Linked DNA regions of Homo sapiens: region 1 is linked to region 2. Evidence: fine-mapped expression QTL. A gene starts in region 2. The other region holds a variant in brackets. All regions are shown on one strand. Distances are from middle to middle.

Region 1 (8,314 bases), 22 kb after region 2:
CTCCAGCCTGGGTGACAGAGCGAGACCCTGTCTCTAAAAAGCAATAATAATTAATAAACTTAGAAACTACACATTTTCTGAAATAAATTAAAAAACTGATTTGTTATTGAACCCAAGTATTTATTCACTAGCGTTTCTACTCTGCACGTTAGCTGTGACCATTTGAGGATATCCAGAAACCAAAAGCTGCACAGTCTCATTTGTGTGTTGTTAGGTCTCCTCCTACAGTATCCTTGCTAGAGATATTTCCTTTTACTTACGGGCTTTCTGTGGCTAATGTTTGTAATCCAGGGTAGGGACAGATCCTTCATTTTGCAACTTGCAAGTATCCTATTTATTAGCATTTTGTTAAGTGTAAATTCCCGTGCCATTTAGCCAAGTACATTAGAATTTTGAGCTGCAGTCATTTCAGGATGTGTTCAGCCTCTGCATCCTGAATCTGTTAGGGGTTTGGATTCCTCACTGGTTGAGCAGCAGTATTACTGTTGGTGCTTATGAAACTGGTGTATCAGCTACTGGTCTGAGAAAATTATTCCAAGTTAGCATTATTCCAAGTTGCTCTTTTGAGTATGGTAGCCACACTTACTAGGGAATGAGAGGGAAGTTTTCACTTTATACCCCTCTTTCTTACTTTCTCTTTATCTCTTTCCCTTTTTGCTCGAATTCATTCACGTGCTCTATTTTTCTTTCTCTTTCCTTCACTTTCCTTGTCTCACTGTCCTTCTTTCTTAACAATAAGCATGTGTTACCTCAGTAAAAAATAAACATGCTGGGTGTCATGGCTCACACCTGTAATCCCAGCATTCTGGGAGGAAGCGGGAGGATCACTTGAGCTCAGAAGTTTGAGACCAGCATGGATAATATAGTGAGACCTCGTATCTACACAAAATTTAAAAATTAGCCAGGCGTAGGCTGGGCACGGTGGCTCACGCCTGTAATCCCAGCACTTTGGGAGGCCGAGGCAGGCGGATCATGAGGTCAGGAGATCGAGACCATCCTGGCTAACACGGTGAAACCCCGTCTCTACTAAAAATACAAAAAAAAATTAGCCGGGCTTGGTGGCGGGCGCCTGTAGTCCCAGCTACTCGGGAGGCTGAGGCAGGAGAATGGTGTTAACCCGGGAGGCAGAGCTTGCAGTGAGCCGAGATCGTGCCACTGCACTCCAGCCTGGGTGACAGAGCGACACTCCATCTCAAAAAAAAAAAAAAAAAAAAATAGAAAATGGAGATGTTATCATTAACATAATTCTTAACAGTATCATTTGACTTGTTTGTGAATGCTATGACCTCGGATTGCGATTCTGTTACTTAGTTCTCTTTCATAATCTTTGCTTTTCAAAAACAGGTTGTTAAGAGAGAGGACATTCAGCAGTTCTTTGAAGAGTTTCAGTCAAAAAAGAGAAGAAGAGTGGATGGGATGCAGTATTACTGCAGCTAGAGTGGAGTATGAAGCTTTCTCATTCAAGCCAATGAAAATGCGCTTCCCATTCTTGGAATAAAAGAGGTGTGGTTCACATTTGGCCCCCTTTCCGTCCTCCTCTGTTTGGAGAGGCCTCGCGCTCCCTTCATTCTCTTTAGCTGCAGTAGCCACCGTGTGGATGCTGACTTCACAGCCAGCGTCCTCTGTGACTCAGCTGATGCAGCTCATTCCACAGACTTCTCCAGTGTACTCCTACTCCAGTGCACCCAGGGTTATTTGCATAGTTTTTAAGTTTGATTTTGTTTTGAGAAAGCAAATTGGTGTCTTGTTTAATGATCTGTTATTTCACTCCCAGATGTGTGTGTTTTGCCACAGAGCTGTTGCCTTCCAGAACCTCCTCCGCAGGCATCACGGAAGGCTCTCTTCCCGTCACCTAGAACCTCTACAGGTCCCCTCGCCCCTATGATCGTGGTGCCTTGGGTCAAAGCTTCCTCAAGCCTGGTCTGCTCCTTCTTTCACGTCCCTGTTTTCTGAGGTTTGGTCATAGCTTAGAAAGGATCTTGGGGCTTGTTTTCTCTAGGCCCAACCTCCAGAGTAGCCAGGACTGATGGTTTTCTGGTCTGGATGTCTGTCACAGGCGGAGAGATTAACAGATGACAGGGTTGAGGAAGCAAGCCTTTGTTATGAATTTTACTAATACAGTTCAAGTGAAATTTTCGTTCATGATTCTATTGGCACTAGAATTAGAATTTCAGTACTGTAGTGCTCACAGGGCTTCCTGGAGAACATTTGCCCGTATACTAGTCCCTTCTCTGCTGCCTAGAAAACAGACCGGGTCTCACCCCTGTGAAATCTTGGTGGTTTACGAAGTCCTCTGGATTTCTTGATATTATCAGGGATATTCATAAGCATATATCAAAAATGGACCTATTTTGATATTCTGTTATGAAAATGTTATTAGAACCCCAATAAATTATTATTTTTCCCCCTTGAATCTGCTAAAGAAAACAGATCCTGACTTAGCTTACTTGAAATAAGCAGGGCAGGGAGCCCTGTTTTGGAAGAGACAGACTGTGGAAGAGATTACAAACAAGGCCCGAGGCTGCACGAATGATGAGTTTTGTGTATATAATGTTAATGTCCACCGCCACTTCCCTAACGACTATGAGATCTTTTTTTTGAAGATCCTCATGGAAGGTTGTACAGAGCCCCACATTTGAGGGGAAGTCCTTTCAGTTGATATGAGATCTCTTTAACACCCCTCAGTCTATGTAGGAAATGCCTTGTGATACATAGAGAACCCTCAGCTTCTCTCTGCCTCTGGAGGACCAAGGTCTTTCCTGACAGTCGGAGACACACCTTGATGTATGTTAATAAAAGCATTTCAGGCTGTGGGGCCACCATGTATATTAATACTCCTTATGTGTCCAGCATCTGTGTATTCATTCGAGTGCCCAATCCCTGGATGAGATGAACTAGGCCTTATAAAAAGTCAAAGCCTCAAAGAAATGGCACAACCATGTTCTTCGGCACTCAGGCTCCTAATTGCAGATCCTCACGAAGGGTGGTATGTGGAGCTGGAAGGTCTTGTGGCCACAGGACATGCTGGTGAGCCCTGAGCTGGCCTTGTGCAGAGGGCTCCGTTCAAAGGCTCGGGGTGTCTTTGAGGTTGTTTATCAAGCTGGGGAACTCTTCCAAGTCTGACAATGTTTCGAACCCTTTTTGCAAGGTTGCACTATTAGTATACCATCATGTCCGGAAAACTTTTAATCTTCTCAAATATCTGATGTAACTACCAGAAAGTCCCTTACTTCCTATGACCAATCAGGACCAAGTCTTGGAGGTGATGTGTTACATTACGTGCAGCACAATAGTACCGATCAGTTAACTCAGCGCTGAAGGGCTTGTTTTATGAAAGGTACTATTCCTTCTTTCACATTAACTGGAAACCTCTTTTTTTACCTGTTGTTCACAACTAGTTTTCTTATTGACTGTATTGGACTGTCTCTTCTTGTAGAGACTGATTTTGGCCAACATATTAATGCATGTTTTATGCAAAACACAAATATGATATTAGTTGCTTTTAAGGAGTTCTGGCATTGTATGTGCATTTTTGTAGAAATTGTTACTGGACTTATAATTACATACTTAACTCTGATCAGGTTTCTGTAAAATTTAAATAAAACCAATACAAAATAGTTGCTTTTCAGATTGTTTTTAGTATATTTAAGTCTACACAGCCTCCCTCTGCAGGTTTTAAGAAAATGCAGGCAGGGCGCGGTGGCTCACGCCTGTAATCCCAGCACTTTGAGAGGCCGAGGCAGGCAGATCACGAGGTCAGGAGATCGAGACCATCCTGGCTAACATGGTGAAACCCCATCTCTAATAAAAATACAAAGAATTAGCTGGGTGTGGTGGCGGGCGACTGTAGTCCCAGCTACTCGGGAGGCTGAGGCAGGAGAATGGCGTGAACCCGGGAGGCAGAGCTTGCAGTGAGCCGAGATCACGCCACTGCCCTCCAGCCTGGGCGACAGAGCGAGACTGTCTCAAAAAAAAAAAAAAAAGAAAAAATGCATAGAGCCGGGCATGGAGGTTCACGCCTGTAGTCCCAGCTACTTGGGAGGCTGATGCAGGAGGATTGCTTGAGCCCAGGAGTTGGAGGCTATAGAGTGCCGTGGTTGCACCTGTGAATAGCCAGCCACTCACTGCACTCCAGCCTGGGCAACAGAGTGAGACCTCATCCTTCAAAAGAAACGTAATGGTGTATTCTAACAGCTCTTCCTGCCCTGAGGTCCTGCCCTCAAAGCAGAGGGACTGGTTCACGACATTGGGTAGCTCATTATTCTGCTGTTCTGTAAAATGCAGCCTGATCCCAGGTCCCCCGAGCAGAGCTCCTTCATCCCCCCGACTTCACCATACCCCCTGGGGTCTAATAATTGGGGTCTAGATGAAC[A/G]GCAGAACAAAGCAATGGGCTGGGCTGTGACCAGTCACAGTGTTCAGGTACTGCTGCATGCAGAGGGAGAGAGGGCTGGAGCCCACATCCTGAGGAAAATGTGAGGTCCACCCTACACAGTAGCCATTATTTCTAAGTAAATATAAAAGCAACCCAAAAAGCCAGTATAGTGGCCCATCTTTGGCCTCCCCACAACTCCTGCTACCTTGGATGTGGACTTACGGTCATCACCCATGGTAAGTTCAGAGGCCAGATTGCAGAGGGCAGGGTGTGGGCTGCAAGAAGAGGCCACAGTTGGCACTACTGTGAGGGGACAAGGAGAGGGCGCGGCTGCAGAAGGCCAGTCCAGGGAGTTGCTTGTTGAAGTTCAGAGACACTTGGGCCAACGCACATTCTTAAGGTGGAGCCATTGCTGAGAGTGGACCGCAGGTGATGTTGGAGCTGTTAGAAGATGGGATAGGATGGGACAGAAGGACCACCAGACCTGGTGGTGGGGGATGCGGGTGAGGGTGTTGGAATGAGGCCTCAAAATCGAGGGAGTTCCATAGGCAGCCTCCATTTCCCTGGGAGGTGGGAGGGGAGGAGTGAGCTGGAGCATGGCTCAGGTAAGAGGAGGTGGGGGGAAGGAGTGCGCTGGAGGGCGGCTCAGGTGAGAGGAGGGGGCGGAAAGTGGCCCCGAGGAGAACACGTTAAGGCTGACCCGCAGGACTCAGGCACACCGAGCCACGGGAGGCTGGGGACCACAGGTACCACGGGGGCGTGGCTGTCTTCAGTCTCCCAAAGCTGAAGATGGACACACTGTTTATGGGTTGAGTTGGGCGGGGAGGATGGGTCGCAGCTGGGCATGGTGAGACGGCTGCCACCTATGGAAGCTGGGCCATCCTGGCAGGGGAGCAAGGAGGCCAGAGTTCCAGAGGAGGACCAGGGAGAGGCTCTGGACAGGAGGCGATCCGGCCTGAGAGCGGGCAGTGAGGTTAGCATTTCAAAGATGGAGATATTCTGGGGACAGGGGAGAGCTGTGCCATGGACAGGTAGCTGGAGACGGTCTAGGCAGCTACCAGGATGACACCAGGGATTGGAGGGAGAGGATGTTAGGTTGGAGCCAAAGCCTTCAGGATACGAAAGGAGTGACTGGGGGTGGCAGCTGCAAAGGTGGGAGCGGGACACTGGGCCGTGGGGGCTGGAGAGGTGCTGGGGTGTTAGAGACGTCACCCGCCGCCCTTCCTGACACAGAGTCCGTGGAAAGAGCGAGAAGGAGCCCACGTCCTGGGAGAGGGCTAAGTGGGCGAGGAGGAGCTAGGAGGGCAGCCAGGACAGGAGGCAGGAGGGGAGGGGTAGGAGCACAAGGACGCTGGCACTGGGGGGCAGGGAGGACACCCTGAGCAGGCTGGAGAAACAACCGTGGGTGCGATCAGGGGACTTCTGTAGGAAGAAGGCTGGCGAATGACTCGGGAGAGCGGGATTGGCAGGCACAGGGTCACCTGACTGCAACTCTGCAAAGAGCCCAGTCCCATCAGCCCCGGGAATGGTGGGATGCTGGGGGCACTGAGTTCTCTCGGGATCACTTACAGCTGGACTTCCCAGGGACTCCCCAGGGATTTCAGTGGCTCCGTTGGAACATGGAGAGATGGGAAGAACAATTGCTTTTAGTTCAGTCTCAGAGGGCAGGGAGGCATTTATGGTGCATCTGCTAGAACAGGGGGCCCACGGTACCGTCCATGGCCCGTTAGGATCGGCGCCACACAGCAGTAGGTGCGCGGCGAGAGTTATCGCCTGAGCTCCGCCTCCTGCTAGATCCGCGGCAGAATTAGATTCTCACAGGAGAACTCTATTGAGAACTGCGCATGCGAGGGATCTAGGTTGCGTGCTCCTTATGAGAATCCAATGCTAAAAGTAATGCGCTTGAATCATCCCGAAACCACCCCCCCGACCCCTGTCCGTGGAAAAATTGTCTTTCATGAAACCGGTCCCTGGTGCCAAAAGGGTTGGCAACGGCTGTACCAGAAGATTCCAGAGATGGAGGATATTTGTGGAGCTAGCTAAATGAAGGGTAAGGAATTCCAGGAGAGTACAGGCGTCAACAGGTGCCCACAGGACCCCGCAGCAGCCCTCCAAGGTGGGTATTGAGGAGGAGTTTCTTCACCTGAGCCTGAGGATGAGAACTATTGCACACGGTGACTTGAGGATCGCGAGTCAGACATGGAAATTTCGCGACCAGCGCTCAAGAAGCGCACTCGCATCATCTCCAGCTTAAGGATGAGGAGACTCAGTTAGGCGCTTTGCCCCAGCTTCCACAGCCAGGAAGTGGCAGAGGCAGGCCCAGCCCTGGCCCTGCCCTGGCCCTGCCCTGCAGGCGCCCCGAGGATCCCCCAGTCCGTGCCTTCCTCCCTCCTCCCAGGCAGGCTTTCCTGGCTCCGCCTCCTCACCCTCTCTGAAGACCCCCCGACAGGCCAGCAGCGGGCACAGGAACACTCCCCAAAGCTTGGAGACAAGGCATGACAGCCCAGAATCCAAGGCTCTGCTAGATGAGGCTCAAAGCAGCGGCGAGCTCTCCGAGGGACACAGCTTAGTCCCAGGCCGGGGGAAAGGCACCGGGCTGGCACTGGGAGGAAATGGACGTGGTTGTACGGAACTGGTGAGCTCTGGGTTTCAGAGACAGAATAAAAAAGGGTCCATGGCCAAGAGGCTTGGAGACAGAACAGATGGACCTGTTGGGTGGGCCATGGAGCTAAACTCCAGACTGGGGTGACGCCCGTGAGAAACCCCAAGACCGTGAGTGCCATGTATAAAGCCAGCTGTGGAGCAAGGACAGTTAGCTGACCACAGGGAGCGTGGAAACACATGACTGGCTTCCACACTTTCTGTGAGAGGACAGCCTTGAACACGCAGAGCAAAAGCAGGCGAGCACGGGCGGAAGGAGCCGGGAGGCCCTGAGGACGTGGCCTGGAAACTATTCACAGCACACCGCAGGCAATCTATGCAGGACGACCGACGACCGAGAGAGAGACACGGGCCCCAACGCCAGAAACGACCATATATCTCAATTCATTTGCTTTTGTACTTTTAGGTGGGGGATGGTAGATTCTGGAAACTATGGACTGGTGACCTGACAGGTGTCCCCTAGAGGCTTCTAAAACAAACTAGCAGCTACTGTGGAATGATTTCTGAACCCCAGGAGAGAGGAGCTGAAAATAGGAAGTGAGGAGTCCTTAAGAACAAATGGTGCGACCCAAATGCCCATCAACAGTAGACTGGATAGAGAAAATGTGGCACATGTACACCATGGAATACTATGCAGCCATAAAAAGGATGAGTTCATGTTCGTTGCAGGGACATGGATGAAGCTGGAAACCATCATTCTCAGCAAACTTACACAGGAACAGAAAACCAAACACCGCATGTTCTCACTTATAAGTGGGAGGTGAACAATGAGAACACATGGACACAGGAAGGGGAACATCACACACCGGGGCCTGTCAGAGGGTCGGGGGTTAGGGGAAGGACAGCATTAGGAGAAATACCTAATGTAGGTGACGGGTTGATGGGTGCAGCAAACCACCATGGCACGTGTATACCTATGTAACAAACCTATACGTTCTGCACATGTAACCCAGAACTTAAAGTATAAAAAAAAAAAAAAAGAACAAATGATGCAGAGCCGACTTCCTTCTCCTGTTGATAAGTCAACCAGCTTCCCAGGGGACGAGGGAAGCCTATGTATGTGACAAGGTCTCTCATGACTGGCCCACAAGATGACAGTAATGATGACCCCATCCAGCTTCCAGGGACAGCTCGGTCGGGTCTCCTCACTCCTCAAACGCCTTCAGTTTCCCTCCTCTCCACCACTAAGCTACTCAAAAAGGCTGTCTACACAGATCATCTCCACCTTCTCACCTCCCACTCAGACTCGCATCTGCCCCACCTGGCTTCTCTCTCCAGCTG
Region 2 (8,312 bases):
GACATGTACTCTTTATAACAGAACCAGAAGTTAAAAGATGTAGACATCACACAAATCAATGATTATTTTAAAAATAGAAAACAATGATAAAAATTCAGTTGCCAACTTAGAGGATTTTATACATTATGAAGTGTTCTATTTTCCTTCCAGGGTCTGAAATTTATTTCTCAAGAAAACAGATTTTATTTCTAAGCCTTTACTATCTTTGCTAGAAACAGAAAAACCAGTTTTCTCTTTGACAAAATTGTCCCAGGAGAACAACACAAATGCTTTTTCCAAATTAGAGCATAAGTCTTCCTTAAATGTCCTAGTGTGACAATAAGGATACAACAGCCATCTTTTAAATGTCATGAAGGCTATTGTTAAGACGGTGTTTTTGGCCGTTTTGCAGATGGTCCATCGAAGTTAGTTCTGTTATCAATGTTATTTTCATCTTCTGCATCATCTTCATCATCACCTTTTAAAATAAATATTTGTTGTATGACAATACGTTCTATGGCTGAAAGAAATATATATAGCTAAAGTGGTTGATAATGAGACCATTTCACTTTAGGGATTAATAAAACCTGCACATTTTAGATTAAAATGATTTTGAGAATTTCAGTGTTTAAAATCTTTATTTTCTATCACTTTCCTCTTTGGAAATATTAGTTCATTCACCATAAAATCCACTCTTTTTTTCTTTTTTTTTGAGATAGTCTTGCTCTGTCGCCAGGCTGGAGTGCAGTGGCACGATCTCAGCTTACTGCAACCTCCGCCTCCGGGGTTCAAGCGATTCCTCTGTCTCAGCCTCCCAAGTAGCTGGGATTACAGGCACGCGCTACCACGCCCGGCTAATTTTTTGCATTTTAGTAGAGATGGGGTTTCACCATGTTGGCCAAGATGGTCTTGTTCTCCTGACCTCGTGATCCGCCCGCCTCGGCCTCCCAAAGTGCTGGGATTACAGGTATGAACCATTGTGGCTGGCCAAAATCCACTCTTTTAAAAAGTGTACGGCCTAGTGGTTTTTAGTATATTCACTAGCTTGTGCAACCATCACCTAGAACACTTTCATCACTCCAAAGAGAAATGATATGCCCATTAGCAGTCGCTTTCCATTCCCCTCAGCCTTCGGCAACCACTAATCTACTTTTTTTCCCCCTTATTAGAGATAGGGTCTTGCTATGTTGCCCAGCTAGACTCAAACTCCCAGGTTCAAGTGATCCTCCTGTCTCAGCCTCTAGAGTAGCTGGGACTACAGGTGCCCACCACTGCACCTGGCTCACTAATCTACTCTATCTCTATGGATTTGCCTATTCTGTACATTCATATAAACAAAATCATGCAACATGTACCCTTTTGTGTCTGGCTCTCACTTAGCATAATGTTTTCAAGGTTCATTCATGTTGTAGCACATGTTAATACTTCATTACTTTTTATTGCTAATAATAGTCCATTGTATGGATATACCACATTTTGTTAATGCACTCATCGGTTGATGGATATTTGCATTATTTCTATTTTTTAAAATTATCATTTTTAGAGATGAAGAGATGAGGCCTCACTCTGTCCTCCAGGCTGGAGTGCAGTGGAGCAATCAGCCCACTGCAGCTTCAAACTCTTGGGTTCACATGATCCTCCCACCTCCTAAAGGCGCAACACCAAGCCCAGCCAATTGTTGTTTCCACGTTTTAGCTACTATAAATGCTGCTGTTATCAACATTCATGCGTAAGTTTTTGTGTGAACATACGTTTCCAGTTTTCTTGGGAGGACTACCAGTGGAACTGCTGGGTCATATGGTAACTTCATGTCAACTTTTTGAGGAGCTACCAAACTCTTTTTCCCAGTGGTTACACTGTTTTACATTTCCACCAACAATGTACAAGGTCTCCAATTTCTTCACATTCCAGCCAACACTTGTTATTGTTCTTTTTGATTATAGCCAACATCCATATTATCAAGATGTATTTCCCAAGATGGAAGGAAAGTACAGTTTAAGCTCTTCTTACATAATTGTAAATCCTGACTCTAATATCTAGTTCTTGGGTTTTTCAGCTCAGGACGGTTAAAATGTACCTGCCTGGCCAGGTGTGGTGGCTCACGCCTGTAATCCCAGCACTCTGGGAGGCTGAGGCGGGTGGATCACGAGGTCAGGAGTTCGGGACCAGCCTGGCCAACACAGTGAAACCCTGTCTCTACTAAAAATACAAAATTAGCTGGGAGTGGGGGCGGGTGCCTGTAATCCCAGTTACTCCGGAGGCTGAGACAGGAGAATCGCTTGAACCGGGGAGGGAGAGGTTGCAGTGAGCCAAGGTTGTGCCACTGCACTCAAGCCTGAGTGACAGAGCTAGACTCCATCTCAAAAAAAAAAAAAAGTACCTGCCTATTTCTGCATTCGAGGCAATTTTTTAAAAATAATGCAGTTAAACTTCATGTTTCTACTTTCAAACTGCACCTACAAAACTGGAAAGGCAAGGGAGTCTCTGGGAGTTAATACGTGATAAAATGAAGTCTGTCCCAGTCTTTGGAACCTGTTCCTACTCTGCGATAGATTGTACTCTTCCAAGTATGTCTGTAGTTTCACACCTGATAAAACTCCTTTTTATTCAACACCCAGCTCAAAAGTCTTATCCTTTCTGAAGACTTCCTAGGGTGTCTGGGTTTGCAACAGTTACAGAGGACCACAGAACCACTTTCACTTTTTTTTTCTTTTTTTTTGAGACGGAGTCTCGCTCTGTCGCCCACGATAGAGTGCAGTGGCGCGATCTCGGCTCACTGCACCCTCTGCCTCCAGGGTTCAAGCGATTCTTCTGCCTCAGCCTCCCGAGTAGAGTAGCTGGGACTACAGGAGCATGCCACCACGCCCAGCTAATTTTTGTATTTTTAGTAGAGACAGGGTTTCACCATATTGGCCAGGCTTGTCTCGAACTCCTGACCTCGTGATCTGCCTGCCTCGGTCTCCCAAAGTGCAGGGATTACAGGCGTGAGCCACCAGCCCGGACCACTTCCACTTTTAATAAGAGTGTCTGCCTGTCTAGTCCCCTTGTGTTTCACAAGGGCAGGAACTGAGTCGCATTCACCTCATTCTTCCTCCAGGGCTCAGCTCAGGGTTTGGCACATAATAGTAGGCATTCGACACGTTTTTTTGTGAAATAAACGAAATAGCGATGAGTTGTGGAAACGCTTGAGTAGAAGCAGCCCAAATAAATATAGTGATAAATGCCAACAATTTTTATTTTTTAAATTATTTTAAAAATAATAATAGAAACGGGGTCTCGATATGTTGCCCTGGCTGTTCTGGAACTCCTGACCTCAAGTGATCCTCCTGCCTCGCCCTCCCAAAGTGCTGGGATTACAGGCGTGAGCCCCACTTCGCCTAGCCCGCCAAAAATTTTTAGATGCAATTCTTCTTTCCTCGAGGCTCACTTTGTCCAAGTCTGCCACTCTACACGGGCTCCCCAAGCCAATTTCCCCTGGGCGCCCGCCCCGTCCTCCGGTCACTGCAGCACCGTCTCAGAGCTCACCGTCCAAGTCCTCGTCTGGAGCCGCCGCCACCCGGTGCTGCACTTCCCCCTGTACCAGAGGGTCGAATAATTCCGTTACCATGTCCTTCATCTGGGCCACGCCAGACAACAGGCCCTGGAAAGGGTCGCCGTCACCCGGCGCCTCACAGGACACCCGCAGCTTCTGCGGCTTCCCTTCCTGCCCGACGTACTCTCCCAGCAGCTCCATGGTGACCGCTAAGCTTCCAGAACACGACACCGGGAAGCGCCACCCGGAGGCGGAAATCAGCCCGCGTCCGGCGCAGGCGGGAGAAGGGAGAGGAGTGACATCCGTTTGTCGGAAGTCGCTCCTCCCCCTTCCTTCGCTTTTTTTCCTTGTCATTGGTTCCTGGCACTCGGGCCCCACCTCCTCCGGCTACGCCCCTCACGGCCGCTTTTCCCGCCTCCGCCGGGGCCGAGCCGCTGTTCGGCTGACAGTTGAGGATGGCCGGAGCCGAGGGCGCCGCTGGGCGGCAGTCGGAGCTGGAGCCCGTGGTATCGTTGGTCGACGTCCTTGAGGAGGACGAGGAGCTGGAGAATGAGGCGTGCGCTGTCCTGGGCGGCAGCGACTCCGAGAAGTGCTCCTACTCTCAGGTGGGCGCGCGGCCCGGGCCTCCTCTCCCCCGGCTCCCGCCGAACCTCCCCTTCCCGGCCCGGCTGTCCCTATTCCCGCCTTGCCGCAGTCGTCTCCCCAGTGGTGGTCCGGGGCCGCCGTTAGTCTGCCGCTTCCTCACCCCAAGCTCACCCTTCCCTTTTAACCCCAACCTCCTGGGCCCCCTTCAGCCTGTGTCCAGCAGGGGCCCCCCTCTCCCCTGTCTCCAACTCTGTCCGGCCCGCCAGGAAGGGCCCTGGAGCAGCTGCTCTGTCCGTCCTCTCCAGCCTCTTCTTGGTGCACCACTGCTTTTCACGAAACCACCCCGCGACCTCTCAGATCCAGACATCTTTGTCCCTGATTTTCCCATCCTAAGATTATTTATTTATTTATTTATTAGGGACCGAATGGGAGAGTCAGGTTAAAGAGATTTTCAAATCCATAGGGATTTGCGGTGAGCTCCTTGACAGCTAGTTCCTCTGCAATTTAGTTGGACAAGTGCTAGCTAGTACTTTTTCTTTCTTTCTTTTTTTGGCAAAATGAAGCAAGTACCCATGTCTATCTGCAGTCTGCCCCCCTCCCCTGGAAATAGACCGGAAACAGAACAGCAAGTGGCTCTGGCAAGGGAGGGGAGAGAGGAGAAAAGGATCTGTTTGGCATTTGGAAGACGTTGTGAGTGAGCAAGTGTTTGAGGGGGTGTGATGTGGTGTTTAGTGACTCACCCTACACTTCGAGGTACAAAAATGGAAAAGGATGGGTAGGAAGAAGACTGACAAAGGATGAGAATTGGTAGGAAGAAGGGTTACCTAGGAAGAGGGGTGGATTGGAACACTGGGGAGATGAGGGGAGAGACTTGTATTCATTATGTGGTATGAACTGAGATCATAATACCAGTTCTCGTTGTTGACCAAGGTTAGTTTACACTGCAAAGTGCTAGATTGTTGAATAAACCTGGTATCCAGACATAGCCCCAGGTATTTTAAAACCTTTGGTCACCACTAAAACAATTTTTCCCCTGCTTTACTTAAAAAAAAAAAAAAGAAAAAAGTTATGTCTATATGTAAACTATTTTTGAAGTGTAGTTACCTTTATAAAATGGATTCCTTAATATTTTCTTTGTGGTAAAAAAAAAAATACGGAAATTTGCACAAATCATGTACACAGCTTGAAAGGAAAGTGTGCGTGTTCCCACAACCCAGATCAACAAATAGAACATTAGGAGTGCAAAAGGCTTATTGGAATAGAACTTTAAAAAAAAAAGAAAGAAAAAGAAATAGAACCTTACTGGCATCCCGGAAGCCTCCTTATCTATCTTCCTCCTTCCTAGAGGAAGGTAACTATACCTCTTATACATATTCACTTTTTTTTTCTTTTTGAGATGGAATTTCACTCTTGCCACCCAGGCTGGAGTGCAATGTCATGATCTCTGCTCACTGCAACCTCCACCTCCTGGGTTCAAGTGATTCTCCTGTCTTAGCCTCCCAAGTAGCTGGGATAACAGGCGCCCGCCATCACGTCCAGCTAATTTTTGTATTTTTAGTGGATGGGGTGTTCTAGAGATGAGGTTTTCACCACGTTGACCAGGTTGGTCTTGAACTCCTGACCTCAAGTGATCTGCCCACCTCGGCCTCCCAAAGTGCTGGGATTACAGGCGTGAGCCACCGTGCCCAGCCTACATATTCACTTTTTAACATTTTGTCACATTTGTTTTATCTCCTTTTCTACTTAAAATTTGCTGTTTTAAAATTTTGAACTATTTAAAAATAAGTTGCAGACACGATGACACTATACCTCTAAATACTTCAGCAGGCATCTCCTAAAAATCAAAGGGATTCTTTGCATGTGTTGATTCTTTCTTTGGTAGATTTACAAACATTTTCCAGGATGAAAGTGTGATGTTACTTACATAAACCTGTACATATGCTCCTGTGTTTTCACATATTAAAATGATTAAACAGATCCATTTATTCACAGCTGATTGACAAATTCAGACTTCCTATCACTTTAAGAAAGAAGTGCTGGCTTGTGTCGTGGCTAATGCTTGTAATCCCAGCACTTTGGAAGGCCAAGGCAGAGAATTGCTTGAGCCCAGGAGTTTGAGACCAGCCTGGGCAACATAGCAAGACCTTATCTCTGCAAAAAATAAATAAGGAAGAAAGAAAAAAGTGCTTGCATGAAAAAAAGCACTAGTATAAAAATGAAACTTGCAACGCAACTGTGTTTTGGTTGATGCTCTGTTGTGTAAACTTTTTAGTCTTAATGGTTTTTACAGAAAGATCTTGACCACAGATAATCTGATTTTAATTATTTTTCAGTTCCTAGTGTGGGTATTAGGTAAACCATGCTACTACATTAATTCTCTTTTCCATTTTGGGGGCTTTCAGGGCTCAGTAAAGAGACAAGCACTATATGCCTGTAGTACCTGCACCCCAGAGGGAGAAGAACCAGCAGGAATTTGTTTAGCTTGCAGTTATGAATGTCATGGAAGTCACAAACTATTTGAGCTATACACAAAAAGGTAAACATAGTCAAGAGATTGTTACTAAATGCTTTTGAAGTATAGATTCTTTCCCATCTACACTTTTTCCTAATCTTGTTTTTTCATGCAAAGCAGTTGAACACTAATGAAATTAATTAATTAATTTATTTATTTATTTATTTTGAGACGGAGTCTTGCTCTGTCACCCAGGCTGGAGTGCAGTGGTGTGATCTAGGCTCACTGCAAGCTCCGTCTCCCGGGTTCACGCCATTCTCCTGCCTCAGCCTCCCGAATAGCTGGGATTAAAGGCTCCCACCACCACGCCCAGCTAATTTTTTGTATTTTTAGTAGAGACGGTGTTTCACCGAGTTAGCCAGGATGGTCTCGATCTCCTGACCTCGTGATCCGCCCGCCTCAGCCTCCCAAAGTGCTGGGATTACAGGCGTGAGCCACCTCGCCCAGCACTAATGAAATTTAATGTAATTATTTTATATAATTGGAGAGAGTTGTTTCTAGAGCCTTTAAAAACATAATATGGTACAAACTCAAACCATTTATCTTTCCCTGCCATCATTTTACTTGTGTGTTTGTATGTGATATAAATATTTGCTTTTGTACATATTAATTTCCCGAATTGTGAAGTCTTACTATGTGCTTGAATGCTTGAAGAAATTTTAAATTGGATTTTGTAAAAAGAAAAATAAAATTGTTATTTCCTCCTTTTTTCAGAAATTTTCGTTGTGATTGTGGAAACAGCAAGTTTAAAAATTTGGAATGCAAATTACTTCCTGTAAGTAAGCACTGTAACTATAAATGCATTTAGAGCAGCTGAGGTTAATATTTGCCAGAGTGGGTAAAAAAACAAATACCTGTATTTTCCAAAAAAAGAAGTTCTTATGCTTATTCTTTGCAGATGGCCATTTCATTTTTTACTTTGTTAGAAAAACTATATAAACTGTTGAGAGCCTACAAGATAGATGGTAATTAATATGAAAGGTTTGGGGGAGAGATGTACTTGAAAGTAATTCAGGTTTAATTATATTGGTTGTACTTATTCTCTGAGGCTTTTAAATCAGCGGATATGACTTAAAAACAATAAATAGGGTCAAGAGATCGAGACCATCCTGGCCAACATGGTGAAACCCTGTCTCTACTAAAAATACAAAAATTAGCTGGGCATGGTGGCACCCAGTCATCTACTCGGTCAGCTACTTGGGAGGCTGAGGCAGGAGAATTGCTTGAACCCAGGAGGCGGAGGTTGCAGTGAGCCGAGATTGCGCCACTGCACTCCAGCTGGCAACAGAGCAAGACTCCATCTCAAAACAAACAAACAAAAACAATAAATAGGCCGGGCACGGTGGCTCACACCTGTAATCCTAGCACTTTGGGAGGCCGAGGCAGGTGGATCACTTGAGGTCAGGAGTTCAAAACCAGCTTGGCCATCATGGTGAAACCCCCCCGTACTAAAAATACAAAAAATTATCTGGGCATGGTGGTGCGTGCCTGTAATCCCAGCTACTTGGGAGGCTGAGGCAGGAGAATCGCTTGAACCCAGGAGGCGGAGGTTGCAGTTACCCGAGATTGTGCCACCGCACTCCAGCCTGGGCGACAGAGCGAGACTCCATCTCAAAAAAAAAAGAAAAAGAAAAACCAATAAATAAGGCTGGGCGTGGTGGCTCATACCTGTAATCCCAACACTTTGGGAGGCCTAGGTGGGAG

Which allele goes with the higher level. Alleles are on the strand shown, and positions count from the first base shown. SD is a standard deviation of normalised expression in the study named.
With allele A in place of G in region 1, the expression in CD8 T cells of the gene that starts at base 3,931 in region 2 is lower (large effect, 1.0 SD a copy in CEDAR).

What was found. PIP is the estimated chance that this variant, and not a neighbour inherited with it, causes the effect.
Region 1: its variant is fine-mapped to the expression of UBR7 in CD8 T cells (CEDAR, PIP 0.95).

What each region holds. Positions count from the first base shown.
Region 1 is chr14:93,225,599-93,233,912 of GRCh38, forward strand. UBR7 (ubiquitin protein ligase E3 component n-recognin 7) reads left to right here. Exons shown (of 11, transcript NM_175748.4): 11 at 1,345-3,617. The coding sequence ends at 1,437. Among named protein-coding and RNA genes, the nearest start is that of UBR7, 22 kb to the left of the region's middle. The variant A/G (reference allele first, on the strand shown) is at 4,373.
Region 2 is chr14:93,203,326-93,211,637 of GRCh38, forward strand. It overlaps UBR7 (ubiquitin protein ligase E3 component n-recognin 7), which reads left to right and starts at 3,931. Exons shown (of 11, transcript NM_175748.4): 1 at 3,931-4,116; 2 at 6,499-6,632; 3 at 7,323-7,383. The coding sequence starts at 3,967. GON7 (GON7 subunit of KEOPS complex) reads right to left here and starts at 3,740. Exons shown (of 2, transcript NM_032490.5): 1 at 3,505-3,740; 2 at 1-457. The coding sequence starts at 3,712. The coding sequence ends at 363. RefSeq lists an enhancer at 2,977-3,836.